4 linked regions of the Homo sapiens genome follow. The protein of the gene in region 1 purifies or fractionates together with the protein of each later gene. This does not show direct contact. Each region holds a gene or a part of one and is shown in the gene's direction. Other genes may lie near its edges. The genes, in order: TRIM50, NEK7, SERPINB12 and PKP1.

What was found.
Region 2: the proteins of TRIM50 (region 1) and NEK7 purify together in Homo sapiens (affinity purification with western blotting; one study listed by BioGRID). This does not show direct contact.
Region 3: the proteins of TRIM50 (region 1) and SERPINB12 purify together in Homo sapiens (affinity purification with mass spectrometry, with the first as the bait; one study listed by BioGRID). This does not show direct contact.
Region 4: the proteins of TRIM50 (region 1) and PKP1 purify together in Homo sapiens (affinity purification with mass spectrometry, with the first as the bait; one study listed by BioGRID). This does not show direct contact.

What each region holds. Positions count from the first base shown.
Region 1 is NC_000007.14:73,310,807-73,318,082, reverse strand, and holds the end of TRIM50 (E3 ubiquitin-protein ligase TRIM50), read left to right. Parts: intron 1-1,393; coding exon 1,394-1,518; intron 1,519-4,413; coding exon of another isoform or gene 4,414-4,454; exon of another isoform or gene 4,455-4,572; coding exon 4,573-5,162; 3' UTR 5,163-5,547; downstream 5,548-7,276. UniProt on the Homo sapiens protein: E3 ubiquitin-protein ligase that ubiquitinates Beclin-1/BECN1 in a 'Lys-63'-dependent manner enhancing its binding to ULK1. In turn, promotes starvation-induced autophagy activation.
Region 2 is NC_000001.11:198,255,209-198,262,961, forward strand, and holds part of NEK7 (serine/threonine-protein kinase Nek7), read left to right. Parts: intron 1-7,366; coding exon 7,367-7,429; intron 7,430-7,753. UniProt on the Homo sapiens protein: Protein kinase which plays an important role in mitotic cell cycle progression. Required for microtubule nucleation activity of the centrosome, robust mitotic spindle formation and cytokinesis.
Region 3 is NC_000018.10:63,565,804-63,573,517, forward strand, and holds the end of SERPINB12 (serpin B12), read left to right. Parts: intron 1-803; coding exon 804-1,208; 3' UTR 1,209-3,526; downstream 3,527-7,714. UniProt on the Homo sapiens protein: Inhibits trypsin and plasmin, but not thrombin, coagulation factor Xa, or urokinase-type plasminogen activator. May play a role in cell differentiation.
Region 4 is NC_000001.11:201,312,886-201,320,638, forward strand, and holds part of PKP1 (plakophilin-1), read left to right. Parts: intron 1-280; coding exon 281-675; intron 676-3,667; coding exon 3,668-3,812; intron 3,813-4,686; coding exon 4,687-4,894; intron 4,895-5,732; coding exon 5,733-5,910; intron 5,911-6,930; coding exon of another isoform or gene 6,931-6,993; intron 6,994-7,381; coding exon 7,382-7,496; intron 7,497-7,753. UniProt on the Homo sapiens protein: A component of desmosome cell-cell junctions which are required for positive regulation of cellular adhesion.

The sequences.
Region 1 (7,276 bases):
GGCCTGATGGCTGAGAAGGACCCAGGACCTGAGTTTGCCAGGCAAGCCGAGGAAACGGTCCTGTAAAAGGGGGAGTGGCATGTGGACTCTGGTTATGAGTTCAGGGTGGCTGGGTGTAAGGCAGGATATCACCAGGAGTCGGAGCTGGGAGAGGTGGGAAATGGCCAGAAGCAACATCCAGGAGCACCGGGCATCCCTTGCTTACCCTCCTCACCCTTGCGCAGCAGGCAGTATCAGCCCTGCCTGAAACTTGCTCTGCAGATTGTGGGAAGAGAGTGGATCCATGTTCTAGACCCAACAAACGAACACGTGCAGTTCCCAAGCCTTCCTCACTCCCTGTTTATGGGAGACTCCGTGTTTCTCACATTTCTTTTAGTCTTAGAGACAATTTGGTCAGAAGACATGGGTTTAAATGAAGGGACAGAGGCTGGGCATGGCGGCTTACACCTGTAATCCCAGCATTTTGGAAGGCTGAGGCAGAAGGATGCCTTCAGGTCAGGAGTTCGAGACCAGCCCAGCCAACATGGTGAAACCCCGTCTCTATGAAAAATACAAAAATTAGCTGGGTGTGGTGGCAGGCACCTGTAATCACAGCTGCTGGGGAGGCTGAGGCATGAGAATCACTTGAACCTGGGAGGTAGAGGTTTCACCGAGCTAAGATCACCCCACTGCACTCCAGCCTGGGCGACAGAGCAAGACTCCATCTCAAAAAAAAAAAAAAAAAAAAAAGTCTTGGCATGGTGGCTCATAGCTGTAATCCCAGCACTTTGGGAGGCCAAGGTGGGTGGATTGCTTGAGCTCAGGAGCTCAAGACCAGCCTGGGCAACATGGTGAAACTGTCTCTACCAAAAATAGAAAAAAATTAGCTGGGCATGGTGGCACATGCTTATAGTCCCAGCTGCTAGGTAGGCTGAGGTGGGAGGATCACTTGAGCCCAGGGGGTTGAGGCTGCACTGAGTCGAAATCATGCCACTGCACTCCAGCCTGGGTGACAGAGTGAAACTCTGACTCAAAAAAAAAAGACACATTACTTGGCCCCCATAATTGGTTTCTGATTGGCAGGTCTGGTGTGGGGTCTAAGAACCTGCATTTCTGACCATTTCCCAGGTGGACCATTGACTTTCTACTGGGAATGGGTTGGACCATTTTCCAACCAACACTGCTGGTCCCCAAACCTGCACTCTAGAAGCACCACTATAGAGCGTTTCCCCTTCTAGGAAGGAGATGGGTCCTCCCTGAAGGGGCTGTGCAGGGGAGGGGATGATGGGCATTGATGGGCATTGTGACTGCAGTCCTGCACTGTGGATCTGGCTGGGCAAACATAGATAGGATGGAGGGGTGGGGTGGGCCACGTGATACCTCACTCTCTTGTACTGTGAACTGTCACCTGCAGAGCAGAGATGCCGCAGGCCCGGCCCTTAGAAGGCGCATTCAGCCCCATCTCCTTCAAGCCAGGCCTCCACCAGGCTGACATCAAGCTGACCGTGTGGAAAAGGCTCTTCCGGAAAGTTTTGCCAGGTGAGGCCCTGACCCGTCCTCCTTCCTGAGGGCTGCCGCCCAGGGCAGGTGGCAGTTCATCGATTGTATCAGAGAGATAATAAGCTACAGAGAACTCAGATGGAGGTTTGTGGAGGGTCCTAGTGAGAGCATGGGACTGAGTTTCCGAACAGCTTGGGTTCCTGCTTACTCTTTCCTTTCCTAGCTGCTGGCTGGGCAAGTTGTGTCATTTCTGAGCCCAGGTTCCTCATCTGTAAAGTGGGGCTATTTGCACCCACCCGGCCAGGCTGCAGAGCTTGTATATAGACATACGTGTGTTGCAGCTTAGTGCTTCATAAATGGTATTAGGTTGGTGCAAAAGTAATTGCAGTTTTTGCCATTACTTTTAAAAGTAATGTACTTTTTGTCTGGGCACAGTGGCTCATGCCTGTAATCCCAGCATTTTGGGAGGCTGAGGAGGGCGGATCTTCTGAGGTCAGGAGTTCAAGTCCAGCTTGGCCAACATGGTGAAACCCCGTCTCTACTAATAATACAAGAATTAGCTGGGCGTGGTAGTGTGCGCCTGTAATCCCAGCTACTCAGGAGCCTGAAGCAGGAGAATCACTTGAACCAGGGAGGTGGAGGTTGCAGTGAGTTGATATCGTGCCATTGCACTCCAGCCTGGGCAACAAGAGCAAAACTCCGTCTCAAAAAAAAAAAAAAAAGTAATATCCTTTTAAAAATGTCCTTCCTACTCAAAGGACAAGTGGTCTTCAAAGTAATGGCAAAAACCGCAATTACTTTTGAACCAACCTATTCTTGTTCTCTGTCAAAAACAACTCAAACACATTTCATTCCTTTATTACTAGCATGCTGTCTTGTACATAAGGGAGACTGCTAACAGAGCGATTTCATCCACCAAAAGCAAAAATAGGGTTTATATAAAAGAAGGGGCTGGGCACGGCGGCTCACGCCTGCAATCCCAGCACCTTGGGAGGCCAAGGTGGGAGGACTGCTTGAGGCCAGGAGTTCAAAACCAGCCTGGGTAACATAGTGAGACGCCATCTCTACAAAAAATAATTAGTGGGGTGTGGTGTTATGTGCCTGTGGGCCCAGCTACTGAGGAGGCTGAGGCAGGAGGATTGCTTGAGCCCAGGAGTTGGGAGGCTGCAGTGAGCTATGATTGCACCACTGCACTCCAGCCTGGGTGACAGAGGAGACCTCATCAGTAAAAAAGAAAAGAATGAAAAAAAAAAAAAAGGAAAGATAAGAAGGAAAAAAATTGCAGTTTGTGAACTGTGAATCCTGTTTGTACATCTCACATTTCTTTTTTTTTTTTTGAAGGAAAATTTGTATTATTTTCATGTACAGAAAACTCAACAGTGTACGTTTTACCCAGTTTAGTGGTAGTTTCTTTAGTCTTTGCCTTTTTGAGCTTGGCAATGTGAGCCACAGACTTGGGACCCAGGACACTGCCTCCCCAGTGATGGCGGATCTCATCACATTTGTTGTTGTAATTGGTCCTGGTAGCTTCCACCAGCTTAGCCCAAGCTCCTTTGTCTTCCAAGTTAACCTGTGTGAAGGCGACAGTGGTGCAGGTCTTCCTGGGGACTAGACATCCCAGTCTTGCCTTCCCCTTGATGATGCAGTCAGGGACCCCACTTTACACACAGGCACAGGCAGGAAGACAGCCAGCTTGATGGGACCCATGTTGCGTGGAGTCACCACCAGCTGAGCCTTCCTTTTTTTTTTTTTTTTTTTGAGACAGAGTCTCTGTCACCCAGGCTGGAGTGCAGTGGTGTGATCTCAGCTCACTGCAACCTCTGGCTCCTGGGTACAAGTGATTCTTCTGCCTCAGCCTCCTGAGTAGTTGGGACTATAGGCGTGTGCCACCACGCCCGGCTAATTTTTGTATTTTAGTAGAGACGGGGTTTTTCATTATGTTGGCCAGGCTGCTTGCAAACTCCTGGCCTCAAGTGATCTGCCTGTCTCAGCCTCCCAAAGTGCTGAGATGACAGGCATGAGCCACTGTGCCTGGCCCAGCTGAGCGTTCTTGTTCTCCATCAAGGTGGTGACGGTGTTAATTCCTGCTCCAAGGACAGGTGGCCTCTTAGTGGGGACATCCCCTTTGCTGGCAGCTTTCTTCTCAGTCAGGGCCAACAGTCTCTGCTTCTTCTCTTGCTTTGCCCCTGGTCTGTACTTCTGGGCCAGCTTAAGCAGCTGAATAGCTGTTTGGCGGTCCAGGGCCTGGGTGAACTGGTTAATAGCAGGAGACAGTTTCTGCTACTTATAGAGGATGGCTGTCCGCCACTGCACCCTGACCGAGCAGGACCATTGCACAAAGTGGGCGAGGTCCGTTTTGGCCTGGAAGTCCTGTCCAGTGCCAAAAGTCTTAGGCCTTTTCTCAAACGGGATAAACCACTTTCTTGGCCTCCTGCTTCTTCACGCCAGCAGGGGCCGGAGCCACCTTCTTCCCCTTGGCCTTCTTTCCTTGCGGCAACTTGGGTGGCGGGAAGGGGTGGGAGGCGGGCAGGGGGGAGCACATCTCACATTTCTGGGGTAAACGGATCAGCTGGTAACTAGCAAAAAGCTCAGGTGGGCTAGTTCGTCCTTGAATAGGCTGACTAGGCTAGCAAATCCAACAGCTGCAGTTGTTATGGGTTCTCCAGAAATCCCTGAGGGCTGAGCTATAGGCTCACAGGACAGGTGTCTTCCGGGTCCTTCCCACAACACCTCTGTGTCAGGCAGGCAGGCCAGAACCCCGAGCCCAGTGTCCATTTCTTTCTCCAGCCACCTCAGCCCCCCACAGCCCACCAAGCTGCTCCCTTTTATATAAACACTGTTTTTGCCTTGGGTGGATGCAATCAGTCTGTGATTGATCTTCCTTATGTAAAACTTCATTCATTCATTCATTCATTCATTCATTCATTCATTCAGGGAGCAGCCCTGTACTGGCCCCTTCTAGACCCTGGGGCTAGAGAGATGAGGAAGACACAGCCCCTCTCCTTGGGGAGTTCAGGGCCTCCATCAGCTTCTGTGGGCCGGGTCTGCTGCCCTCCACGTGGCCTCACAGACCCTCTGTGATCTCCCTCCCAGCCCCGGAGCCTCTCAAGTTGGACCCTGCCACTGCCCACCCACTCCTGGAGCTCTCCAAGGGCAACACGGTGGTGCAGTGCGGGCTTCTGGCCCAGCGGCGAGCCAGCCAGCCTGAGCGCTTCGACTACAGCACCTGCGTCCTGGCCAGCCGCGGCTTCTCCTGCGGCCGCCACTACTGGGAGGTGGTGGTGGGCAGCAAGAGCGACTGGCGCCTGGGGGTCATCAAGGGCACAGCCAGCCGTAAGGGCAAGCTGAACAGGTCCCCCGAGCACGGCGTGTGGCTGATCGGCCTGAAGGAGGGCCGGGTGTACGAAGCCTTTGCCTGCCCCCGGGTACCCCTGCCCGTGGCCGGCCACCCCCACCGCATCGGGCTCTACCTGCACTATGAGCAGGGCGAACTCACCTTCTTCGATGCCGACCGCCCCGATGACCTGCGGCCGCTCTACACCTTCCAGGCCGACTTCCAGGGCAAGCTCTACCCCATCCTGGACACCTGCTGGCACGAGAGGGGCAGCAACTCGCTGCCCATGGTGCTGCCCCCGCCCAGCGGGCCTGGCCCCCTCAGCCCCGAGCAGCCCACCAAGCTGTAGGGCCGCCCGGAGTCCTGCCGGCCCACAGGCCCATCCCGGCGGGGCACCGGGGACTCGCGGGCTTCTGCTGGGTCCCGCCTGAGGTGATATCGTCACTGTTTAGGAAGGTCTTCAGGCCTGTGTGTCCCTGGAACATGTAATGATAGGGAACAGGACCCCAGTCCCTTTCCCCTCAGCCAAGGGTGTATTTGTAAACTTCGGCCCCCAGGCCTTGGCAGCCAGGGACACACTGAAATCCCCATGGTTCCTGCCACTTGCTAACCATGCTATCTGCGCAGACGCTTCCGAGGGCAGAAATAGTCCCATGTATACCTTTTCCATATTACTGTGAACTTTCAACTACTATCAAGGATAATAAATTTGACATTATTTCTTTCTCTTTAAATGATTTGCACATATTAGTTGCTATACATACTGCTTTATGCTCGAGTCTTTTTTTTTTTTTTTTTTTCCTGAGATGGAGTCTCTCTCTGTCACCTAGGCTGGAGTGCAGTGGCACGATGTAGGCTCACTGAAACCTACACCTCCCGGATTCAAGTGATTCTCCTGCCTCAGCCTCCCGAGTAGCTGGGATTATAGGCATGTGCCCCATACCCAGCTAATTTTTGTATTTTTAGTAGAGATGGGGTTTCGCTGTGTTGGCCAGGCTGGTCTTGAACTCCTGACCTCAAATTATTTACTTGTCTCAGCCTCCCAAAGTGCTGGGATTACAGGCGTGAGCCACCGTGCCCAGCCTCGAGTCTAGTTTCAGAGACAGGATCTTGCTCTGTCACCCAGGCTGGAGAGCAGTGGCACAATTGTAGCTTACTGCAGCCTTGACCTCTCAGGCTCAAGTGATCCTCCTGCCTCAGCCTCCTGAGTAGCTGAGACAACAAGTGTCTGCCACCATACCCAGCTAATATTTAAATTTTTAGTAGAGACGGGATCTTGCTATGTTACCCAGGCTGGTCTGGGCCTCAAGCAATCCTCCCACCTTGGCCTGCCAAAGCGCTGGGATTACAGGTGTGAGCCACTGTGCCTAGGCTGTCATGCCCCTTTGACTCACCATACCCACAGGCTAAGTGGGTCCTGGAAGCTCTGGGGTAGCCCTCTAACCAAGATGCTGGCTCTGGCCACTGGAAGTCAAACTGGGTGCACAGACCAATAAGAGGGCCTGAGGGAGACTAGCTGGGGCAAACAGCAACCCTCAGCCTCCCCACAATCCTGACTTTCCTCCCTCCTCTCCTCAGTCTCCTTCAAGGATTCAGCCTCTCCTCCTGGCCACTCATGGCCTGAGGACCTCCAGGCTCCTCTTCTGGCTGTCTACCCCTCCACACCCATAGCTCCAGTCATCACTTCCACAGGGATGACTCAGAAGTTCCCTCTCCGGGAGACCCGTCCCTTACATGCCACATCCAGTAGCGCTCCAGCCATTCAGCAGCTCCGCCTGGACGTCAAGGGCATGTCCAAAACCGCGCTCATGATCTTCCTACTCCCCCATCCCTGAGATTTATCCTGTGGCTGTGGTGTCCTGTGGCTACTGTAACAAATGACCACAAACTTGGTGGCTTCAAACAAATTTAATCTCTCATGGTTCTGAAGGCCAGATGTCCAAGATCACGATGACGGCAAGGCCGCGCTCCCTCTGGAGACTGTCGGGGAAAACCTGCCCCTTTCCTCTTCAGCTTCAGGTGGTGGCTGCCATGCCCTGGTGTTTCCTGGCCCTGTGGCCGCATCATTCCAATCTCTGCCTCCGTCTTCACGTGGCCTTTTCTGTATGTGCCGGTCTAATCTTCCTCTGCTTCTTATTTTTTTTTTTTTTTTTTTTTTTTTTTTTTTTTTTTTTGAGACAGAGTCTTGCTCTGTTGCCCAGGCTGGAGTGCAGTGGTATGATCCCAGCTCACTGCAACCTCCGCCTCCCAGGTTCAAGCAATTCTTTTGCCTCAGCCTCCTGAGTAGCAGGGATTACAGGCATGCACCACCACACCTGGCAAATTTTTGTATTTTTAGTAGAGATGGGGTTTCACCATGTTGGCCAGGCTGGTTGCGAACTCCTGGGCTCAAGGGATCTGCCAGCCTCGGCCTCCCAAAGTGCTGGGATTACAGGTGTGAGTCACTGCGCTTGTCCTTCCTCT
Region 2 (7,753 bases), on another chromosome or scaffold:
TTGAGGATGCATTGTGGACTCTCAAGTAGAGTAACAATCTTCAAAATCCATTATTTTCAAAGTAAAATTACAAGCTCAACATACAGAATAGAATGGAGAGAACATAGCTGCCAATCTGCCACAGATTGTCAAGATGGGAGGTTGGATGGATTGAGATCCATTTGGAGGTCTCTGGGGACTCTTGGATCCCTTCTCTGATTCTGAGTGTGGAAAACAGGGCTCAATTCTGTCTCTAGTGATTATATTTTACATTGCAGAACCTTCTCATTAGAAACAGAAAGAAAGAAGGGAAGAAAGAAAGAATGGAGGAAGGGGTGGAGGGAGGAAGAAAAAAGCTCTTGCTGCATTTTTCTATTGATTGGGAATTTGAATAAGTGTGAGTTAATTTGCACAATTGTATTTCCATTCAGTATTAATTGGACATTACCCTCTAGCTGCCTCTGTTTTACGCTGTGATAAACCTCAAATTACTGTAGGAAGTTAAAGTTTATTCTTTTGGATTATCCCATTCCTTTCTGCTTTAGTGTGGATATTGTGACATCTAGTTTAAACCTAATTTCTTCATAGAAGACAGAAATGATATTGTGAAGATATTCTTACCTTATTTATTAGGGAGCAACGCCTTAAACCTTTGTAAGGAGAAATATATTTGCATTTTAGACATATTGATTCTTGTGACATATTACACTTGTGCTGAACAGGAAAACCCATGGTTCTTTATTTTTAAAAAGTCATCTCTGCAGCTTAAAATACAAAATTTTATAATATTGCTGACCAATGCTTTTCCTTTTTGAAGAATGCTAACCTAACTCTTTAAAAAAACCCTAAAGAATTAAATATTGAATTTCCTCATGCAACTTGTTATTTTAAGGCTATATTACTTGTCTCAAGAACTGTATTACTGTTCCCAGGTCCACTAGACTCCTTGAATACTTTGGTTGAGTTCATAAAATATTGGTTTTATCATTCATTTCTCTGCTTACAAATTTTTAATGAGATACCATCCAGAATCCTCAGCTTAGTTTTTAAGGCCCTTCCCTACTTTGTGCCACTCCATTTAGTTCACTGATTCAGGGCTATTAACAAAGGATGTGTTCAGCTCTGGCCATTTTCCTGCAGGTTTGCCTGTTACCTGTATGGGAAAGAAGAGTGTGTGCGCTAAATGCATGTTACTTCTTGGAAATCATAAAGGGATCTGAGAGCCTACAGTATATGGCAACATTAACCAATCTTTTTGAAAATTTACCTGTATCCCATCATGGTTCATTTGCAAAAAAATAAGATGGTACCTTAACTAATAAAACAATTTTGAAATTCTCTGTACCAACTTTGCTTTTCTTTCTCTCTTGCCTCCTTCTTCAGTGCTTCCCTTCCTGCTGATCATTGAATTCATTCCTCCAGTATTTATTGGCCACCTAGTGTTTATTGGTCAGTGTCTAAGGCTTTAGGAAGATTAAGATAAACATAATGAGACTCATGGGATTCTAGTGGGGGTACAACAAAGACACCTCTAACATAATGAGATAGGCACTCATGTGATAGGAGCAGCCTTGAAGAGAACAGGTGTGAGGAGGAGCTTAGGAAAGAGGCTTCACAGAGTTCGTGAGCTGGGTCTCAAAACTTACGTTCTTTATGTTGGAAGATTATCAAAAACTTATTTTGATCTGGTATATGCAATCTCTATTTTATTATATTTTGCTCATTGATTAGAGCTATAGGAATGAAGTTGGTTTTTATTTCATCAGTCTGACATAGTGTTACAGTAGTGTGAATTTTGGGTCTCACTGTTTCTTAGTTCTTTGACCATTGTACTCTCATTTTTAAATAATACGTGAGGTATTTTGATCCTTTGTTCATTAATGCTTAATTTCGCTTTGCTTACTCTTAACTATATTTCTAGATAACACTATTTTACTGTGTGGCAGCCATTGTCAGTGAGTTTTTTTTAGGAAGAAAAGCTAAAATAATACTTTATGTATTTATACAAATAAACATAAAGTGATAATATTGTTCAGATTTACCTTTTGATTCAGGTGATCTCAAAAAGTCTTCCCCAAAGTATTCTTTGATATTGAATGCTTACCTTTTATTTACTTATGTTTGTTAGTTGCTTTAAAGTATTTTTCAAGCAAATAACTTTTTAATTTCTATTAATAAGTTACTTTTTATCATCTTAAGTTTAGATTCTGCATGTTTGCATATAATTAGAAATTAGGATTATATATGATCAGAAATTTGTGGACAATGATAGCACTTCCATAATACATAGGCTGATTTTAATATATTCGTAACCTCTGTGGCTCTGCCTTCAATCTCTTTTTCAGTGTTCATTGTGATTAATAAATTTATCTTGCAGCTTTTATGAACTTCATTTAATCTCTATAGACTTCCTTTCAGATTTCCAATTGTTATTTGAATAAATGAAAACTAAGCATTTGTAAGAATAATTCATAAATGACATTTAAAAGATACAGAACAATTTGGTAAATTAATGTTAGTTTTTACTTGTCAAGGTGGAATAGGCTTTTATCTTTAAAATTAAAGCTTTTTAATTTTAATTACTTGTACTTGCAATCTTAAGCATTTCTAAGCAGATAAGAAACAGAAAATTTCCAGTTTTATGGATTGTTTAACATTTTGGGGTTAAACTACTATATGGCAGACACTGTACTTGACAATAGGGACACAATAGTGGGACACAATAATTAAATCCAACATTTTTGTGTGGAAAATAGACAATAAATCAAATAATTATAGCAAAAAATAAATCAAATAATTATAGCCAAAAAGGAAATGACCATGCTGTGGTATTAGAGACAAACTAGAGGAGGAGAGCATTTTAGATAGAGTGTGCAGCAAAGGCCTCTCCGAGGATGTGAAATTTAAGCGTAGGTGGAGGATAAGGAGTCAGTCATCTGAAGGGTAGTGACAGGAAGGTTCCAGCTGTAGAGCCGGGCACGGTGACTCAACGCCTGTAATCCCAGCATTTTGGGAGGCTGAGGCGGGCAGATGACGAAGTCAAGAGATCAAGACCATCCTGGCCAACATGGTGAAACCCTGTCTCTACTAAAAATACAAAAATTAGCTGGGTGTGGTGGCACACGCCTGTAGTCCCAGCTACCTGGGAGGCTGAGGCAGGAGAATCGCTTGAACCCGGGAGGTGGAGGTTACAGTGAGCCAAGATCACGCCACTGCACTCCAGCCTGGAGACAAAGCAAGACTCTCTCAAAAAAGAAAAACAACAACAACAAAAACTTGCTTAGTATATATTTTTAAGTACTTTGTTTTCTGCATTTTAAATGGTCTTTCTTCTAACAATTTGACATATGCCTTTTTAAGGGGATATTTCTGTTAAGTTACTAGAAGGATTTCATTTCCTTTTAAAGAAATCTAGTGTTAACCTTTTCAGTTTCATTAGCTATGAGTAATTTTGGCAAAATTTTAAGATGACAAAAGAAAACCTTTAAAATGATTCAGAGAATACCAAGAATTTATCAGTCATTACTTGCCTAACCACAGCTCATCCCTTGCTCTTACCAAGTATAAAATGAGTTTAAAAACCTGAAGAAACTTTGGTGGAGCTGAATGAAAATGATGCCTCCTAAAGACTTGTTTGTACATATTATATGCAAGATATTCTTACAAAGTCCATATTTTCACCCAAGACATACTGCTTTTTCTTGCTCATGAAATCATCGGACAGCTTTGAATCTGTGTTTGGGAATGATGTAATCTAAATATTCATTATTATTTATTTTTGTCTTGACTTGTTGGCTGAGAGAAAAAGAAAGATAAGATACTTCTGAATTTCCAGTTAAATGTATTTGTAAATGTATTTTGCTCAGAATTTAGTTTTGCTTTAGATGTGCCATCAATGCTTATTTCTCCCTGTGTTTGAGGAGTGACTTTTGATATTATTGAAAATTCAGTTAAAAATAAAAGTCAATTTGTAATTCTAAATTAATTTTTATAACTTGAATTAAAGATTTTCTATGTAGCATGTTTCTATCTTGATATGTTGTATCTTGTTATGGTTTCCTAAAACTCTTATACATCTATTATTCATTCTTATCTCACTCACCCTCTTTTGTTTTTAAAAATGTTGTTCCACATCATAGAGACATTGATTACTGAGAGATTAAATACATATATGTCTCCAAGTTTGTGATTTTCTTCATTTTAATTACTGGTACTATATGGGCATTATTCTTTCTCTGCCTCCTAAAACAAACAAACAAAAATACCAGGAATTACATCAAGATCTGATATACTTACAATTTTGTGCTTTCCAGTATATCTTTGATTTATCTCAAATTCCTTGTAAATAGCATTTCCTGAGAATGGCATCAGCATTTATGATGTGTCAAGAATCAGTTATTTCTCATGCCATTTTGATTTAAAGTGCAAGTAGTCTGTGTGTGTGTGTTTCATACCTATAACTAATATCAAGTTCAAATTTTTCTGTTTCCATTAGTGTTTGTTTTATTGTTTAACATGTTGATATAATAATCCCTTTGGGGGAATGAATGGCATTTCTATGTGAAATTGCTAAATGTAAAGCTTATTCCTTCAGTTCAAGAACTTTCGATTTTACACACACACTCACACACACACACACATATATATTTTCCTGAAGGGCATTACGCATTCCTGCTTATATAAATCAGTTATTGAGAGCCCTTCCAGCCAGCCATGCTCACCCCCATTAAGGTTCTTACATCACTTTGAACAAGTAGCACTTACAAGTTGCGTGTTAATTTTCTGTGTTGCAGTCTGCATTCTGCATCTGACACTGTGCATCTTAAAGGACTGCAAGATGGTTTTCTTATTTGTATCTGTAATAAAATCTGATAGTAAGATGGCATTCAGCATGGATTTTTATATGTAGAAAGGGTGGGCATTAACAGTTTAAGCTTGTCTGTACTCAGGATCAGGTTATTCATATTAATAATTTGTGTGTAGAGTTAAAACTATGATGCTCTTGGAGAAAATTTCTGCAAGGTTTTTCCTTCCTTCCATAAATAGTGTCATATGGTTTGTTCTTTAATACTGGTAATTTTTTTAACCCCTGCTATTGGTGTCCATTTATATCTAGCTCATTTTGTCAAAGCTTAATGTATACAACAGCTTAATGTTAGCTAAAACATATCTTACTAGATAGTTTATGTGAACTTTGTGATAGTGATTTGCCACTCATAGTCCTTTCCTTTTTTTTTTTTAACCCCTTTTCCTTTCCTTGCTGTTGTTTCATCGTGTTGCATTCTGTTCCATTCTGAAATCATGGTAGTTAACATGAGTTTACTGTGGCTGACATGGTTAGAATTACTGCTAATGGAAAAAAGAGAAGTTAACTCTCTTTAATATATGTACCGGCATACATATTTCTTCTTCTGTTATTTGATTAAGTGGGAGAAACTTTGATGTAATCTAGTCTGTCTCTTTTTGTAAACCATCAAGTAAGGTAAGGCTTTATATTTTTTCAAATCTTAAACTGCAGTGCTCAATATTTTACATTAAAAGTTGCAGAACGTAAATTTGATACTTGAAGTTTTCATTAGAAGTAGTAGAACCAAAATAATGTTAGTGAAAAAGCATATATATCATTTTATATACTGCTATTTTCACTATGCAAAAAGCACATGCGTTTGTACAAGAAATAGAAGGGACTGAGCCAAAGCTAAAATTCTTTAAGGCAGTGAGTTTATGGATTTTATTTTTGCTTTATAATCTTATCTAATATCTTCATATGGTTTTTTAAATTAAGACAAATTAGAACTTTGTGTATCTTTGGATATTAAGAATGATATCTAGAAAAAGTTGCCTCTTATAAGCTGTAATTTTACACCCTTATTCCATATTTACTTTTATGCAGTAGATATCTTTTGTTTCTGACTGGCAGAATCCTATAATTCTTTCAAGGTTCACCTCTAATGGTACCCGCCACCCTACATGGAAGGAATTTCTTCCTTAGGTTTCTAATACTACACTTTGTACACACATATATTTTAATACTTATTAGCTAGTTGTGTATGCATTAGACTTTGTGACAGCCTGGCTCATTGAGAAAACACTGACTATGGAGCTAGAACAACCTGGCTTCAAGTCCTGATTCTGTCCTTTACTAGTTTTATGATCATAAGCATATTATTTAATCTTTTTGAGCCTCAATCCTCATCTTGTTATTGTGGCCAATACTACCTGTCTTATAAGATTGCAATGAAGTTTAAAGCATCATGTGTAAAGAGGCCAGCCCTCTCTGGTAGTGTCTAATAACTACTTCTTTAATTAAAAAGACTTGGATTCTGCCACTCCTTTGACATTGTACCTTCTTTTCCTGGAATGTTAGCTGGCTGAATCAGGAAGACTTGATCAAGCTGATTACTAAAAATGTCATTAATTTTTTTATTTGTTATGTAACTAGGGTTTTAATCAGCTTGCAGTACTGACTTAGATTTTTTTTGCAGTCTCTAAGATATTGCTTTTTTAAATGTTATTTTCCACACACTTAGAACCTTGAGAGATTTGTGTTTTCAGAGACACATGAAATATCTTTTTGATTGTATTTTTTATTTTTATGTTTTTAACAGTAGGTTAATATTTTTCAACCTTTTCTTCATTATCCTCCCCCCAAGCTGCCTGTTTAGACATTTCTTCCTAATTACCTCTACCCATGAAATTTTAATTCCACAAATACAGTATATCTGTTTATGTGTAGTACTGTATGTGTATCTATACTTTATACTTAATAGAGTAAAATTTTGTTACCCTTCTCCACAAAGAACCAATTTTCACCCCCTTGGAATGATATCACCCTTGTCAAGAATGCATGCATCAGACCTTTTAGACATGATTTGATGGAACAGATTAATGGTTCAGTGCTTGGGTTCTAGATGGATAACTCTGAGAATGAATTCTGCTTGCTCTGTTGATTAGCTGTGTGACCTTTTGTCATTCTCCTTAGCTTTCTAAAGCTTCTCTTCTTCATCTGTAAAATGGGAATACTACTATTATCATCCTCATAAGGTTGTGCAGTACATTTAGCATATATTAATTGCTCAACATATATTAGCTATTACTTTATCATCTTAATAATCACAACTTTAATTTTGTTCATTGGAACTTAAGACCTGAGTGTTAAGGGGTATCTACCTGTTCTCTTTATCCATTTTTTAAATACTGACTGCTGAAAATGTAAGCAATGTTGGTAACATAAGATACCTACAGAACTCCTTAATAAAGAAAAGCTAATCAGAAAGAAAATTCCTTAGTGTACAAATAATTACATGTAGAGTATTAAAATGAATTTACACAATAGCTTGAACCATAGGTTATTATTTTATTAAGTAATTCTGGGTTCTGTTTTTAGATATTTGATTTAATGGATGCCAAAGCACGTGCTGATTGCATCAAAGAAATAGATCTTCTTAAGGTAATTAATGAACTGTTGACTCTTTTGAACATAACATGGTGATAAAAGTGATTTACTAAAATATCACACTTAAACACAAAAAGGTTTTTAAGACTTATGCTACACTGATTTCAAGTAATATTATATAAGGTTAAATTTCAGTATACTGAAGAATGTAGTTATTTTTTGGATTTATTGTTAAATAACATAATCAGAACATTTGTAGGACCAGCTTTTTTTTCTCATTTCAAAGTAGGAAATAGATAAAATGGGCATAAAACATTGAAGAATTTTTTTTTCTTGACCACCCCAACAAGACATATTCTAAAGGTTAAGTAATATAAA
Region 3 (7,714 bases), on another chromosome or scaffold:
ATATTGGGATTGGAGTTTCTTCTTTAATCTCATAGCTCTCTGCCACTGTTTTAGCAAATCAAGGAATCTGGGTTCTGAGTAACTTGAAAAGTTTTTAAGTTTTCCCTTTTCTCTGAATATTCTGACTTCTGGCCTCTTACTCATACCATTTTTCTATAGCTCAGTTAATTAAAGAATTAACTGAATACTGTTTTGGGGAATATGTACCTTGACAGAAGTGTAGAGAGTGACAACAGAATTGATTGCTTGTGAGGTAGGAATTCATAAAGGCTGGAGAAGCTCAGCTACAGATTGTCCAGGGGGGTAAAGAGATAAAGATAGAAGGAGAGAGAAAGTGAGAAAGGAATACCAATATAGCAGGTATAGTAGTTACAACATCAATAACAACCATTATTCAGAATTTGCTATGTGCTATCACTGTGTTAAGTTCTTTATATACATGATTTTATTAATGCTTGCAAGAACTTAATCATATTATCTCTCTTTTATGGAAGAGGAAATTTAACTTCAGAAAATGAGGGCTTGGCCACAGAACTCAACTAATCGACTGAGCTTTGCTGTGCTTTGAACACTTGTCTCTCAAACACCAGAGCACACTGGAACCTGAGTTGTCCCCTAACTTCTTCTAAAGAGGAAAGATATTTGCTTGAAGTTTTAAATGAAATCAGACTATTCTCTAGCTTAGGGAAAGGTCTTGAAGGTTGTCACTGCCCACTGAAAGGGACTCAGGCACCTTGAAGTAATTGGGGCATTCTTTGTGGTCCCATAATCTGATGCTAAATATTATTTCCTTCCTCTTGTAGCTTGAAAGGAAAATCACCTATGAAAAAATGGTGGCCTGGAGCAGCTCAGAAAACATGTCAGAAGAATCGGTGGTCCTGTCCTTCCCCCGGTTCACCCTGGAAGACAGCTATGATCTCAATTCCATTTTACAAGACATGGGCATTACGGATATCTTTGATGAAACGAGGGCTGATCTTACTGGAATCTCTCCAAGTCCCAATTTGTACTTGTCAAAAATTATCCACAAAACCTTTGTGGAGGTGGATGAAAACGGTACCCAGGCAGCTGCAGCCACTGGGGCTGTTGTCTCGGAAAGGTCACTACGATCTTGGGTGGAGTTTAATGCCAACCACCCTTTTCTCTTTTTCATTAGACACAACAAAACCCAAACCATTCTCTTTTATGGCAGGGTCTGCTCTCCTTAAAAGGGGAGCAGTGTCTAGTACTTTGGAGCTGGAGGAAAATATCAATACAATCTTCCCCTGGCATAAGATGGGCATTTGAGTTTTTGGTAATATCTAAAGCATCTCCTTCATCCTCCAGCCATCGGCTTGTGCTTATCTTGATCTTTCTGTCACCCTGTAGCTTATTTTCATCTGAGTCTGTTAGTATTGAAGGGCTGTTGTTCTCTACCCTAAACTTTCAAGCATATAAATTCACCCTCTGTGACCTGAAGGTCAACACAATTCAGAACAGTACCTACCTCCTTTTGAAGGAATCCTAAAAGTTCAGGTCATTAGACCATTTCTAAGAGATGGCAAACTCAGAAGCCACTTTAACATGGGCAGCAAGAGAACATGTTTGACTGGAACGTGTTTGGAAACTCAGCTCTGTTTCTGGGGTAGTTTGACCGGAACGTGTTTGGAAACTCAGCTCTGTTTCTGGGATAGTTATGATTGTGGTCATCACTGGGCGAGATGCCCTGTTTCTTCCTTTGACAGCTACTGCATGGAAGATGTCCTGTGAGGTCTTTTCACCTAGGACAAGGCAGGGCTTGGGCGTATTTAAGTGATAGCTCAAAGATGTGTGACTGCCCCAACCAGCACTCATTTTGCACAGAGCAGGGGAATGATATTTGTCTTGTGATTTTGACACTGACCCAGGAAAGTGGCTAGTGGATTTAGAGGAGGTTTATCTCAGTTTTCCTTATTGAGTCCCCCAACATTATCATCAAACACTTCCCTCTGTCTCTCCTCCCCCTAGCTCCAAGAATTCCCACCTGTGGCTAGCTCCTTTTATGCACCCAGCACAGGCAGGTGTCAAGAGAAGTGCTGCTGGCATTGTGGACGGCTGGCCTCCGTATGCCCCTCTCTCTGCCTTCTGGCCACGTGGAGGCTGGCCTCTGTGTGCCCCTCTCTCTGCCTTCTGGCCACGTGGAGGCTGGCCTCCGTGTGCCCCTCTCTCTGCCTTCTGGCCACGTGGACTTTTGTGTCTTCCGAGAGGTCTCATGCCAGACCACATGGTGACAACAGGCTTGAGCCTGGGCATGGTGTCCATAGCAATGCTTGTTGGCTGGGCATGATGGCTCATGCCTGCAATCCCAGCACTTCTTGGGAGGCCGAGTCAGGTGGATCACTTGAGTCCAGGAGTTCGAGACCAGCCTGGGCAACATATTGAGACCCTGACTCTACAAAAAATACAGAAATTAGCCGGGCGTGGTGGTGTGCACCTATAGTCCCAGCTACTCGGGAGGCTGAGGTGGGAAGATCACTTGAACCCAGGGGATGGAGGCTGCAGTAAGCTGAGATGGCGCCACTGCACTCCAGCCTGGGTGACAGAGCGAAACCCTGTCTCAAAAAACAAACAAACAAAAAACCCAAAAAGCCAAAACAAAACCTGAAACCCTTGTCAAGAAGGCCATTGGGCTCATCTCAAGCTCTAGTCTACTGAAGGCCTGACCTCTGAGTGTTCCTACTCGCGGACTCAGGGCCTCTGTTCTCTGGTGTGGTAATCTGAGTTCCTAATTTCTATCTTAGCTGAATGTTCTGCCATGACCACTGACACGTCCAACTCACATCTCTTTGGAGTCAGTCTCTTTCCTATCGAGGTGGGTTTCAGGTCTTGCTTGCGGCTCAGTTTCCTTGGCCCACCTTGTGGCTGTCCTCCTCCCAGCTGCCACCAGTCGTTCAGTGTGGCCACGCAGTTTTTTTGCAGAAGGCAGGTGAACCACACCTGCTCCCATGCTAGCCTCCTCTTCCTTTTCTCACCTACCCCAGTGATTTCTTTGTGCTCTGAGAGACAAGTTCCATGTTCTCCATACAACCTTCTCATTGTTGAAGCTCACTTACGACCTAAAACAATTTGACGTTGGTAACGTGAGGCAGTTTGAGGCAGTGCCCTATCCAGAATGCATGTCCCATGGGTCAAATTAATTTCAGATAACCAAAAACTTCATGTCCCCTGTGGTTCCTTTTGGGGTTGACGTTTTGGGGGCTGTTTCCATGTCTGACTTGGCACCACTGCCCGACACGTAGCTGGAAACCATGACCTATATATAGGCCTGCACTGCCCGGCATTTCTTTTGTTCTTATTCTTTTACTTGGTAAACACATTTTTTTTTCATTTACATCGGGATTTCTCAGATTTTGAAGCATGAGAGGGAGAATGTATCTATTTACAATAATGAGGAAAATTAAGAATCTTAAATCTTTATGTAAATCAGTAAACATTCTTTACTAACCTTTGATTTATTAAGAAGTTTCTTCTGAATGAATAAAGCACTTTTGTTATTAGTTAAAATATATACGATGTGTTGCCAACTGATTTTTTTAGGGATATAAATTTAACTTCAAACTGTTTCATCCAAAAATATAAAAATACATAATCTATGAAACTAACAATTCATCTCAGTTACACAGGAAAAATACATCTTGCCCCAGTAATAGTTTCTCCCAGCTTTCCATCATAATTACATATGAAGGCATATAAAAAAGATGAAAACTGACAATGCTAAAACCAGAGTGATAGCCAGCTGATCATCAGAATATAGAAGACATTTCTGCCGACTACAGGTTTTTCTTTTTTTTTTGTTTGAGATGTAGTCTTGCACTGTTGCCCAGGCTGGAGTGCAGTGGTGCAATCTTGGCTTACTGCAACCTCTGCCTCCTGGGTTCAAGTGATTCTTAAGCCTCAGCCTGCTGAGTAGCGGGATTACAGGCGCCCGCCACCACGCCCAGCTAATTTTTGTATTTTTAGTAGAGAGGGGGTTTCACCATGTTGGCCAGGCTGGTCCTGAACTCCTGACTTCAAGTGATCCACCTGCCTTGGCCTCCCAAAGTGCTGGGATTACAAGCTTGAGCCACCGTGCCTGGTCCCTGCTGACTACAAGTTAACGAGGCTGGGCAGTGAGGCATTGTTGAGGGGTCACCTGCATCTCATTGCCAGTGAGTCAGTCTGCCTGTTTCCTCCCATTGCTGCCTTCCTCTGAGTTCAGAAACACATGCTGTCTCTCAACTTGAATTTTAGACGTCTATCTCTTTATTTTGTACTTGCTGCTGTCCTTCACCCTCTGTCTTTCTTATTAGTTAGTTTCTTTTTTTCTGCAGCCATTTGAAGACTGAATGACTTCCCAATTATGACTTGGGAGAAGGTGAGGACAGGCATTTGTTCTTTCCATCCTAGGCAGTTTAGTCATCAGCAATAAAATACTTTTGGTGGAGCCAAGGACAGGAAAAGCCTTGGTGGCAGAGTTCTTGGATATTTTATCTACACTGTCTGTCTAAAGTGTCCCAGACCCAGGCCATACAAAGAGGAGAATATTTACCTGAGCCCAGCAGAACTACACTAGATGGAAGACTTTCAGACACTGGAAATTATGTTCCAAATAGGGAGACCTTGACTCTTCATTTTTCTTGCACCAGCAAGATTGACCCAGCAATATGGTGCCCAGGGGTAGAAAGAACATACAAGTCCATAGGCTGATATAATTGCTGGAAAGCCAACCAGAGCATGATTTTAAATCAACAAGAGAATGAGCTCCCCACTTCCTCAGTTTAAGGTTTTCTCCATATAGCAATGTTGACAGGTAGAACAGATGAGGTAATGTAGATTCAAAAACAATTGTTTCACTTATGCTGACTGTAAATATTCTGGTAAGAGAAACATGGACATATAGTACTCAACAGGCTCCCTAATAGATACAGAATCTGTATGTTCAATTGCATTTCAATTCAAGTCCTCCTTATAACTTCACACATTGTCTAGCGCATACTCCTCAAACTCTTCTGTAGTTTTTTTCCTTGAGCTGCGACAAGCCAGAACATGTGTTGCTTCATTCCTAATTGCTGTTTACAGATTTTGCATGCTGGTATTTTTAAAAATTACACTGTCATTAACCCGAGGCGGAGGTCCAGTTGGAGCAACAGGGTGAGGAATCTTGTGCAGTTGTCTCAATGGATTTCTTTGCTCCACAGTTGAATGCCAATTCCAGATGTGTTCTTTATCCACACCACTCGTCTTGCATTCTTCGTTTCCCAAATCCATTTTATTTTCTTCTTACTCAATTAAAAGAATCCAAATCCTTTCTTTACCCAATAAAAACAGAAAATATCCCCAAATATGCATACTTAAGTATATTAAGCATATCAATATACTTATTAAGCATATTAAATAATAATATATTCATAGTATTTACATTAACTGTAATATATACTTGATATTTAATTTATAAATGCTCATATTCTAATGCAATAAATTTCCCATTTAAATACTGTTTCCCTTCATGTGCTTCAACAAAGTTTTAGCTACAGAGAGGTGAAAAGGATTTAAAAAGCAATCCAGTGCACAACAGCGGGGCTGAGAAACTTGCACACCTCTTGTTGACACACATAGGTCCTGAACAGATCATTCCATGTTCAAGATTAAATAAGTAGAAACAAAAGTATAAGGTATGAAAAAAATCAGTGCCAAATAAGAAGAGATATATCATGTTATAAATGAGAGAGAGAGAGAGAGAGAGAGAGACTGACTTCATAAAATGATTTACAGCAAGAACTGGAAGAAGCTTTTAGAAAATATGCCCAAAATGCATATTAATTTTGGGCATAATTAATAGGATTTAAGAAGACACAAAATCTATGGAATTGGAGTGCAATGCCACAAAGATAAACTCTGATAAGATGTGAAAAAGCTAAATGAGATGAAAACAGACCACTAGGGAACAAAAAAATGCAATAGATGCCATAGAAGAATTTAAATAGAATTTAAAGGCAATAAAGAAGCAAAACTGACATGCTGGAAACTTTAGTTAGTGATGAATAGGGTGTATTTGAGTGTGTCTCTTAGAATGTATAGGAAATAATAAGAGAGAAGTTGGTAGATATAAAGAGAGAATAGAAAGTAAACCCAACAACTATGGTGTTTCTCAGGAAAAAAGAAGACTAATTGGCATAAAGTCAACAATCCATGACATGATGGAAGAAAACCTTTTTAACTTGGATAGTCACAGGATCATACCGAATGATTCGCCCTCCCCCTGCAGAGCAAAAACAGACATGCTGAAAAACTTTAAAAGATTGAGAAAGTAATCCTATCAGCATTTGGGCAAAAAAAGAAATAGTTATAATGTATAAAGGATAAAAAAAATCAGATGAGCATCAAATTTTGTTTTGTACAAAATTTCTGAAGATAGCGAAACTTAGTGTGCAGGTCTGAGGGAAAATATATGATTAAAGAATTTCATATCTAGGCTGGTTGGCTTTTGTGTATGCATGGAACAGAAAACCATTCTCAGATCTATTTTGGTGTATGCGAATGCAGATATATTTTATCTTTAGCTCCTGACACCATGCTGTAAACATCACAGGAATTAAAATTAAATGCATGTTGTTTTGAGTGGCATCCAATGCAGTCAAAGACTCAAAAAGCTAGTGTATTAATCCATTTCATACTACTAATAAAGACATACCCAAGACTGGGTAATTTATAAAGAAAAAGAGGTTTAATGAACTCACAATTCCACATGGCTGGGGAGGCCTCACAATCATGGTGAAGGAGGTAGCAAGGAAGGCAAAGGAGGAGCAAACTCATGTCTTACATGGTGGTGGGCAAGAGAGCATGTGCAGGGGAACTCCCTTTTATAAAATCATCAGATCTCATGAGACTTGTTCACTATCACGAGAACAGCACAGGAAAGATCTGCTCCCATGATTCAATTACTTCCCACCACGTCCCTCCCATGACACCTGGGGATTATTATAATTCAAGGTGAAATTTGGGTGGGGATACAGAGCCAAACCATATCAGCCAGTAAAAAAATTCCTTCAGTAAAACTATGACCTCAATTGATAATCAATGGAAGAAGAGAAATTCCTCATTTAGAATTCTCACTATGCCCAATAATTGTTGGCAGCTGTGACTTTTCCCCTTAGCACTGGTTTTTTTTTTTTACAATGTTGGGTTCAGGCATGGAATGAGTTTCAATATCCAGAATAAGACTGCAACCATGAAATATCTGAACTGGGACAGTAATAACACTAATACTTGTGCTTATTGTGTGCCAGCTTTTGTCGAAGACCTTTATGTGCCCATTTAACACTCTCACTCATCCTAAGAGGTGGGTTATTATACTTATCCACCCTTAACAAATGAGGAAACAGAGGCACAAAGAGATTAAGTAATTTGCCTAACATCCCTCAGACAGCAAATGATTGAACTAGGATTTTTAACCAGGCTGTCTGGCTGGATGTTATACAGAAGATATATCACCACCACTCAATGAAAGTATCAAGAAGTAGAAGTTCCCAACAAGGTTTGTAAGCCACTAATACACTTGCCCCAAAGCACATTCAGGCCCTACCACCCTGAAATTGCCAAGGCAAGTTGTGGTAAACCCCAAAGCAGTATTCATAGACAGTCTAATGAGGAATCTCAAATACGAAGAGAAACCTACAACCCAGATCTACCACATGACTGTAGAAAATAATCACATGAA
Region 4 (7,753 bases), on another chromosome or scaffold:
CACTCTGATATTTTATATTCCAGGATATATTATTCTATTCCATCTTTTTAAAAATGATGGCCATAGTCTTCTAAATTGATTTTATAATCCACAATGGGTCACAGCCTGCAGTTAGAAAAGTAATATATCAGATGATGGCTCAGGTTCCTTCCACGCCAAACATTCTGGGATTCTGTAAGCGTTATTATGGGGGCTGGGGAGGGCTGTATCTCATGCCCTGCTGGATCCAGGACCCCCATTTAGGAACCTTGACTGAGCTTTTCTCCCTTTCCCTGGCCAGATCTACAATGGAACCCTCAAGCGGGAGCCTGACAACAGGCGCTTCAGCTCCTACAGCCAGATGGAGAACTGGAGCCGGCACTACCCCCGGGGCAGCTGTAACACCACCGGCGCAGGCAGCGACATCTGCTTCATGCAGAAAATCAAGGCGAGCCGCAGTGAGCCCGACCTCTACTGTGACCCACGGGGCACCCTGCGCAAGGGCACGCTGGGCAGCAAGGGCCAGAAGACCACCCAGAACCGCTACAGCTTTTACAGCACCTGCAGTGGTCAGAAGGCCATAAAGAAGTGCCCTGTGCGCCCGCCCTCTTGTGCCTCCAAGCAGGACCCTGTGTATATCCCGCCCATCTCCTGCAACAAGGACCTGTCCTTTGGCCACTCTAGGGCCAGCTCCAAGTGAGTGCTGCTGGGCTGGGTTGGGGAGCCAGGAGGGCCAGTGGGGAGACACACCCTTAGCCTGACTGCACCCTGCAAAGGGCTCCTGGGATGACAGGAGAGACATAGCTTCTGTCCCTGGGGAGTTCATTGCCCCTGGTGTAATGGACTCCCTAATGGGGAGAACCTGGCCCCATGGGCCCTTGAACTCAAGAAGTTCTTAGTGTGAAGGTGAAACAGACATTGACTGTGTAGGTTTTAAAGGTCACAGTTTATGAACAGAAAGAGGCTAATAGTTCTCAAAGTGTGTTCCTCCAACCAGCAACATCAGCATCACCCAGGAATTTGTTAGAAATGCTCATTTGGGGACCCACCCAGACCTATTGTCTCAGAAACACTGGGAGAGGGGCCCAGCAATGCATATATTAACAAGCCCTTCAGTGATTCTGATTTACACTAGAGTTTGAGAACCTCTGATCTTAGGCATGTAAATCTCTATCCATGTTCTGAAAGAGCAAAGGAATATGCCCCGGTATGGACGACGGGAATAGAATGGGTTTCAGGTTACGTTATAAGACAGGTAAATCCAAAGGACAAATAGGACAAATAGACATAAAAACTGAGGGACATGGCCTGGGTGTGGTGGCTCACGCCTGTAATCCCAGCACTTTGGGAGGCCGAGGCAGGAGCGGGTAGAGGGTGCTTGAGCTCAGGAGTTTGAGACCAGCCTGAACAACATGATGAAACCTTGTCTCTACAGAAAAATACAAAAATTAGCCAAGCATGGTGGCGGGTGCCTGTAGTCCCAGCTACTCAGAAGGCTGAGGCAAGAGAATCACTTAAGCCCGGGAGGGGGAGGTTGCAGTGAGCTGAGATAGTGTCACTGCACTCCAGCCTGGGCAACAGAGTGAGACCCTGTCTCAAACAAACAAACAAACAACAACAACAACAACAAAAACCCTGAGGGACTTCATGGGGCTTCATGATCTACTGCTACAGAACAGAGCACAACTCCTGTGCATACATGTGGAAGGCCATCACCCAGAGGAAACAAAGGAGACCAAATGGGGTGCCCCGTTAGGAGCCATAGACGCAGAGGTGTCGTGAGTGACACTGAGCCTGCCCTTCAGGGCTGGGGGCTCCCTGAACCTTTGAACTGTCCTTCATCACCACCTACTGCTCTTGTTATTTATTTATTTGGCAAATGTTTGCCGACCATCTACTACATGCCAGGCTCTTTGACAAGTGCGGGAGACACAGCCATGATAGGGACAACCCAGAGCTGTTCTGGAGCTACACAATTAACTCCTTTTCTGAGAGCCTCAGGAGCTTTGCATTCTTCATCTTTAATCCTCACACCCGCCACCAGGCAGGCATGAGTATTCCTGAGGAGAAAACAAGGCACAGAGATGTTAAGTAGTTTGTCCAAGGCCACACAGCTGGCTCTCCATCCTGTGCTCTTCCCTACTGGTACCACACTGTTCTGAAAATAAGCAGAACCCCGTTATAGAGCTAGACGTTTCCGAACTACCTGATGGCCGTAAGGCGTATTTAGGATGATCTGGAGAAGAACTAAGAAACCTCTCTGTCTTGGAGGCTGATCAGGGCAGCCTCTGGCTTCAGCTCATTGTCCCAACCAGAGGCCCTGAGTGGAGGTTCTAGGTGAGATATGGAAGGGATGAGTGTCAAGCCATTTTGGGGTGACATTTTACTGATGAATGCAGGGTGACATTCTCTCAATGCAGGCAGCAGTACTACTTACCCAGTGCCAGAGAACTCTGCACCTCGGGTGGTTTTCCTAGAAATGAAGTTGGGCTGCTATAGCTAAAACCATGGGTATTTATTGACCACCAAGTATGTCAAAGCATAAGGATAGGGCTCCCTCTTTGAATGCTGGACACAGCCAGTCACCACCCTGTGACTCTACACCAGGGGAGCTGGAGAGGTTCTTAGAAGAGAGGTTTCCCTTCCCTAGGAAGGCTTCACAGATGTGGGGCATCAGCAGGGCCAGTGGTGTGCCTTGAGGCATGCCTGAGACCTGGCCAGGGTACAGTGAAGGGGACAGTCTTGCTGGAGCAGACCCTGGATAGGGGCTGGGGAATGTTCATAGTGGAGCCGGGTTATTAGGTTAAAACATATGAAATTTCTGGTTTTATGGCTGAAAAAAGGTTGACTACAGACATTTCCTATGATTCAACCTAATACCTGCCCTTGGACATCAGGCTAAGCTGTTTAAACTTGAACCTGAAGTATGGAGAAGCCGCTGATGGTTTCTGAGCTAGAGAACAACACAGTGAACTGGGTTTTAGAACCACTTATCTAGTAAAAAGGGTATGAAATTTTAGATGGGGGAACTTGAGGAAGAAAGCCAAATATGGAAGTCCCTTGCTGCCTTTAAAGTGATCAAGATCAGGAAATTGGTGGCTATAAGAATGGGAAGAAAGGCTAGATGTGAACATTTTTGTGTAAGAGCCAGCTGGACTTGGGGATGGATAGATGGATGGATAAATGGATGGATGGATGCATGGATGGACAGATGGACGGACAGACGGACGGATGGATGGACAGATGGATGGACGGATGGACGGACGGACGGACGGATGGACGGACGGATGGATGGATGGATGGATGGATAGGATCATGGCCATTGTCTTCCATTTTCCTAATACCAGACACAAACAAGAGAGATGGCAAGGTAGGTGGGAAGCTTCCCCTCAGGGAATAGGGAGGAGTTTTTCCTCAGTGGAGAGATAACATACCTGCTAGGACATTAACTGTGACCAGGGGCTCACTATTCTCACATGGGGCAAATCCAGTGGGTGTAGCCTTCCCTCCTCTGGAGGAGAGGAGCTGTTCCCAGGGGTATTCTCCAAGTGGGCCTGGGCTGCCTTGTTCTGGCTCTCCAGAGGGCAGATGAGGCTGTGGCAGCTTAGTGTGCTGGGAGGAATTCTGAGCCCCCTCAGCAGGGCTCCCAGCCCACCCCGTAACCACCCCCACTGCCTATTCTTCACAGGATCTGCAGTGAGGACATCGAGTGCAGTGGGCTGACCATCCCCAAGGCTGTGCAGTACCTGAGCTCCCAGGATGAGAAGTACCAGGCCATTGGGGCCTATTACATCCAGCATACCTGCTTCCAGGATGAATCTGCCAAGCAACAGGTAGCTGGTTGCATACCTTCCTCCTTGGTGGGCCTGCGGAGGGCCTGGGTGTGTCAGCCTGACTCCGCTTTTAGAGATGGGTGAGGGCATCTGCAGTTGGCTTCTCTTGCCTTGCCCAGCTGCCAGGAGCCTTCGCATTGCCCAAGGTTAGAGCTGGGCATCTTAACTTTCTGCAGAGCAAAGCCCTCTGTTTAAGTGGACATTAGGCAGGTACAATTCCTCCATTGGTCATGGAAGAGACTTCAATGCCAGCCACGGGTTCAACAGAAACCCCTTTTCTCAAATCCCACTAAAGAACATGACTGCTCCTCACCTCTCAACTCCTGCCCTCCTACCTGCTTCCTCTCTCCCACTCCCCTTCTCTCTCCAGGCATCTTACGGTAGAAAACAGGCCTGTTGATGCCTCCAAAGCTTTGCTGGCAGGAAGGACACTACAGGGTTCTTCAGTTCAGCCCAAGGATGTAGTGTCAAAAATGAGTTTCCCAGAGTCCCGGATAAGTTTGTATGCATTTCTATGTCTGTGTTCTGCTTTAGGGTTTTGAAATGTATTTACATCCACTCTCTTATCAGGTCCTCACCATCATTCTCCAGAGGAAGAAAGCAGGACTCAGGAAAGAGGAGGGACCCTAGCTGAGGTTCTCCCAGCTAGGATATGGGAGCTAGGATATGGGAGCTAGGATCTGAATCCAGGTCTTTTGCCTCCGGGTCTGGGTCAGTTATCATGACCTCACACTGCTTATTTATTTTGGTTGACTTGAATATTTCTGAACTGATAGATTTTTTGGTCTGAAAAAAAAAATCACCTTTGAGTAGAGAATAACTAGATCAGCCTCATCTCCCTTGACCAGGCAGCGTGGCAACTCTTTCCTGGCAGGTCTATCAGCTGGGAGGCATCTGCAAGCTGGTGGACCTCCTCCGCAGCCCCAACCAGAACGTCCAGCAGGCCGCGGCAGGGGCCCTGCGCAACCTGGTGTTCAGGAGCACCACCAACAAGCTGGAGACCCGGAGGCAGAATGGGATCCGCGAGGCAGTCAGCCTCCTGAGGAGAACCGGGAACGCCGAGATCCAGAAGCAGCTGACTGGTAGGACAACACGGCCACCGAGAGCCAGCCTGAGGGCTGTGCAAGGCCACTGGCTATGGCCCCAGGCTGGGGTGCAAGCCTGTCTCTCCAGGCTGGGCCAAGACACAGCTGTGCAGATTTGGCCCAGGGCTAATATCCTGAGAGTTTAGTGACACTGGCCTTGGCCCAATTAGGGGTGTCCAGAGGGTGACCTTGGGTGGTGTGCACACACAAGGGGTCACCATCTTTTTGAGGTTAAAGAGCAAAAGGAGGAAGGCTGATGTCCAGGCAAGATCCATATTCCACAAGCCCTGGGATTCCCAGGTGATGGAAAGAGAGTAAGACTGAGGGGAGAAGGGGTTAACAGGCCTTAAGCACCTACCCTGTGTTCAAGAAATATGGTAGGCACTCAAGGTGGGGGGCACAAGAGGAAGAGGTCACCGTGAAGACCTAGAATTGGGCTGGGAAGATCAGACCATGTACAGAGTAATGACTGATAAGTATTTCTGGCATAACTTTCAGATGGAAAAGAGACAGCGTTAGAAGACTCCAAGTGCTAAAATTTATACTAAAAACCACTGATCAATCAAACGTTTTTTGATCACTTTCCACATGCATAATTTTGGCCTTGACAGAGAACTCTGAGATGTTCCCTGCCTGCAAAGAACCTTCAGTCTGGTTGGGGCATTGAGAAATAGCCTCATGACACAGACAGACAATAGGTTCTACAGACCAGGGCTACCTGGAAAGCGACATTTCAGTAGGGCCCATTTGCCAGAGTCCAGGCTGGGGCTGTTACCTCGGTCCCTAGGGCATCCTGAGCCTGGCACAAATTGGGTTGATGGTCTCTGACCCCCAGGGCTGCTCTGGAACCTGTCTTCCACTGACGAGCTGAAGGAGGAACTCATTGCCGACGCCCTGCCTGTTCTGGCCGACCGCGTCATCATTCCCTTCTCTGGCTGGTGCGATGGCAATAGCAACATGTCCCGGGAAGTGGTGGACCCTGAGGTCTTCTTCAATGCCACAGGCTGCTTGAGGTGAGAGAAGAGGATACATGGGGTCTTTTTGTCCCAGCCTTGGGCCCTTCCCCAGGCAGCCCCATCTCAGCCAACATTCAGCCGGTGCATAGAACATAACAGACAACCCGGCACTCCCTCTTATGGGCAGGCTCCAAGACACAGGGACTCAGGCCTTCCTAACTTCCCTGGAACTGGATAAGGCCCAGGACCCTACCACCCCCTTTGAGAGAATGCAGCGGACATTAGTCAGAAATCTGAGCTTGAAAATGCCTAGATCTGAATATCCAAACTGGTTCAACCATTTCCCTCCTCCACCCCATGAAAAAAAATGCATTTCTTGTGCTATCATCTTGAAGAGTGTTCTTTTAGACAAAAGTCTACCGATGGGTTGCTAATGAGTCACTTCCCAGCTGTGGTGTTAAAACCATTTGCCATGTTCATTGGCATGAAGATGGCACTGCTTCACCCAAAGTTGCCTAAGTTCCATACCAGGGTGTGGCAAAGCCCCTGTGGGGCTGGTGGGAGGGCTTGTTCTAGAAGCAGTGGTTTACAAGCTGGCGAAATGGGTGGGTGTGGAGGGGCGGCTGGTACAGGGCTTGGAACCCTGGAGCAGGATCCCTTTTAGGGTCTTTAATGGGGTTTGTCTTGCTTTAATGGGATTTGTCTTTCCCAACTCCTGAGAATCCCCCCAGAGTGGTGGGTGCAGCTGGCATGTGCCTCTGTGTCTCAACTTGTGTTTCTCCCTGCCAGCCTCCGGTAGCAGCCTCCAGGAAGCAGAGAGGCTGGGGAGATGAAAAGTGAGGATAATTAAGAGTTTTATGGGGTTGATGTGCTACTGGTAGCAACAGCAGCCACACCCCACCTGCACCAGGCTGATGAGCCCACATTGCTTGGGGATGAGCCCACATTGCTTGGGAGTGAGCCTACTGCTGGGGGCAGAACACAGCTTGGGTGGAGAGGGAGCTTCTGGTGCCCAGCCCGGCCACCCCCAGATCCACTTCTGATCCAGCATCAACAGGGCTTCTTCCTGTCCCACAGAAAGAGACTGGGCATGCGGGAGCTTCTGGCTCTTGTTCCGCAAAGGGCCACTAGTAGCAGGGTGTGAGCCTTGGGATGCAGCTGCGGAGGGACCGTTGCCACATGGAGCCATTGCCAGTTATAAAGTTACTGGGCAGAGTGAAGGAGGAGAAGAACTGAGTGCAAATGAGACCTCATTTCAGCCTCAGCCAGGGCCAGGCGGAATTGGCTAAATGGTTTCTCTTTCCTTCCGTTTTCATCTTTTCCTCTCTTCATTCCTTTCCTCCCTTTCCTCTTCTCCTTCCTTCCTTCTACCACAACTTCCAATCTCCACCCCGTCGTCTCCTCTCTGCCCTCCCCTCTCCTGCCTGTTCTCTCTCCTGCCTGTCCCCCACCACACTCTCTTGTCCCCACCTTCCCCGTTCTCTCTTCCCCCTTTCTCTGCCCTCTTCCACCCTCTTCTCTCCCCCAGGAACCTGAGCTCGGCCGATGCAGGCCGCCAGACCATGCGTAACTACTCAGGGCTCATTGATTCCCTCATGGCCTATGTCCAGAACTGTGTAGCGGCCAGCCGCTGTGACGACAAGGTGAGTGCATCCCCTGGTGGCACCCTGACCCCTAGGCCCAGCCCCCTACATTTTCTGGGTGCCTTTGAGGCCTGGCCCAGTGACAAGACAGGAGCACAGACTCAGGGGTGGTAGAAGAGGCATCTGGATGCAGGGCTCAGTGGTGGCTACAGGAGTGGGCTCTGGGGACAGCGTGCCCATGCAAATCCACTCTCCCTCACTTAGAAGTGGAGTAGATGCAGCTGCTTCCCTAATCTCTCTGTTTCCCGGTTCACTCT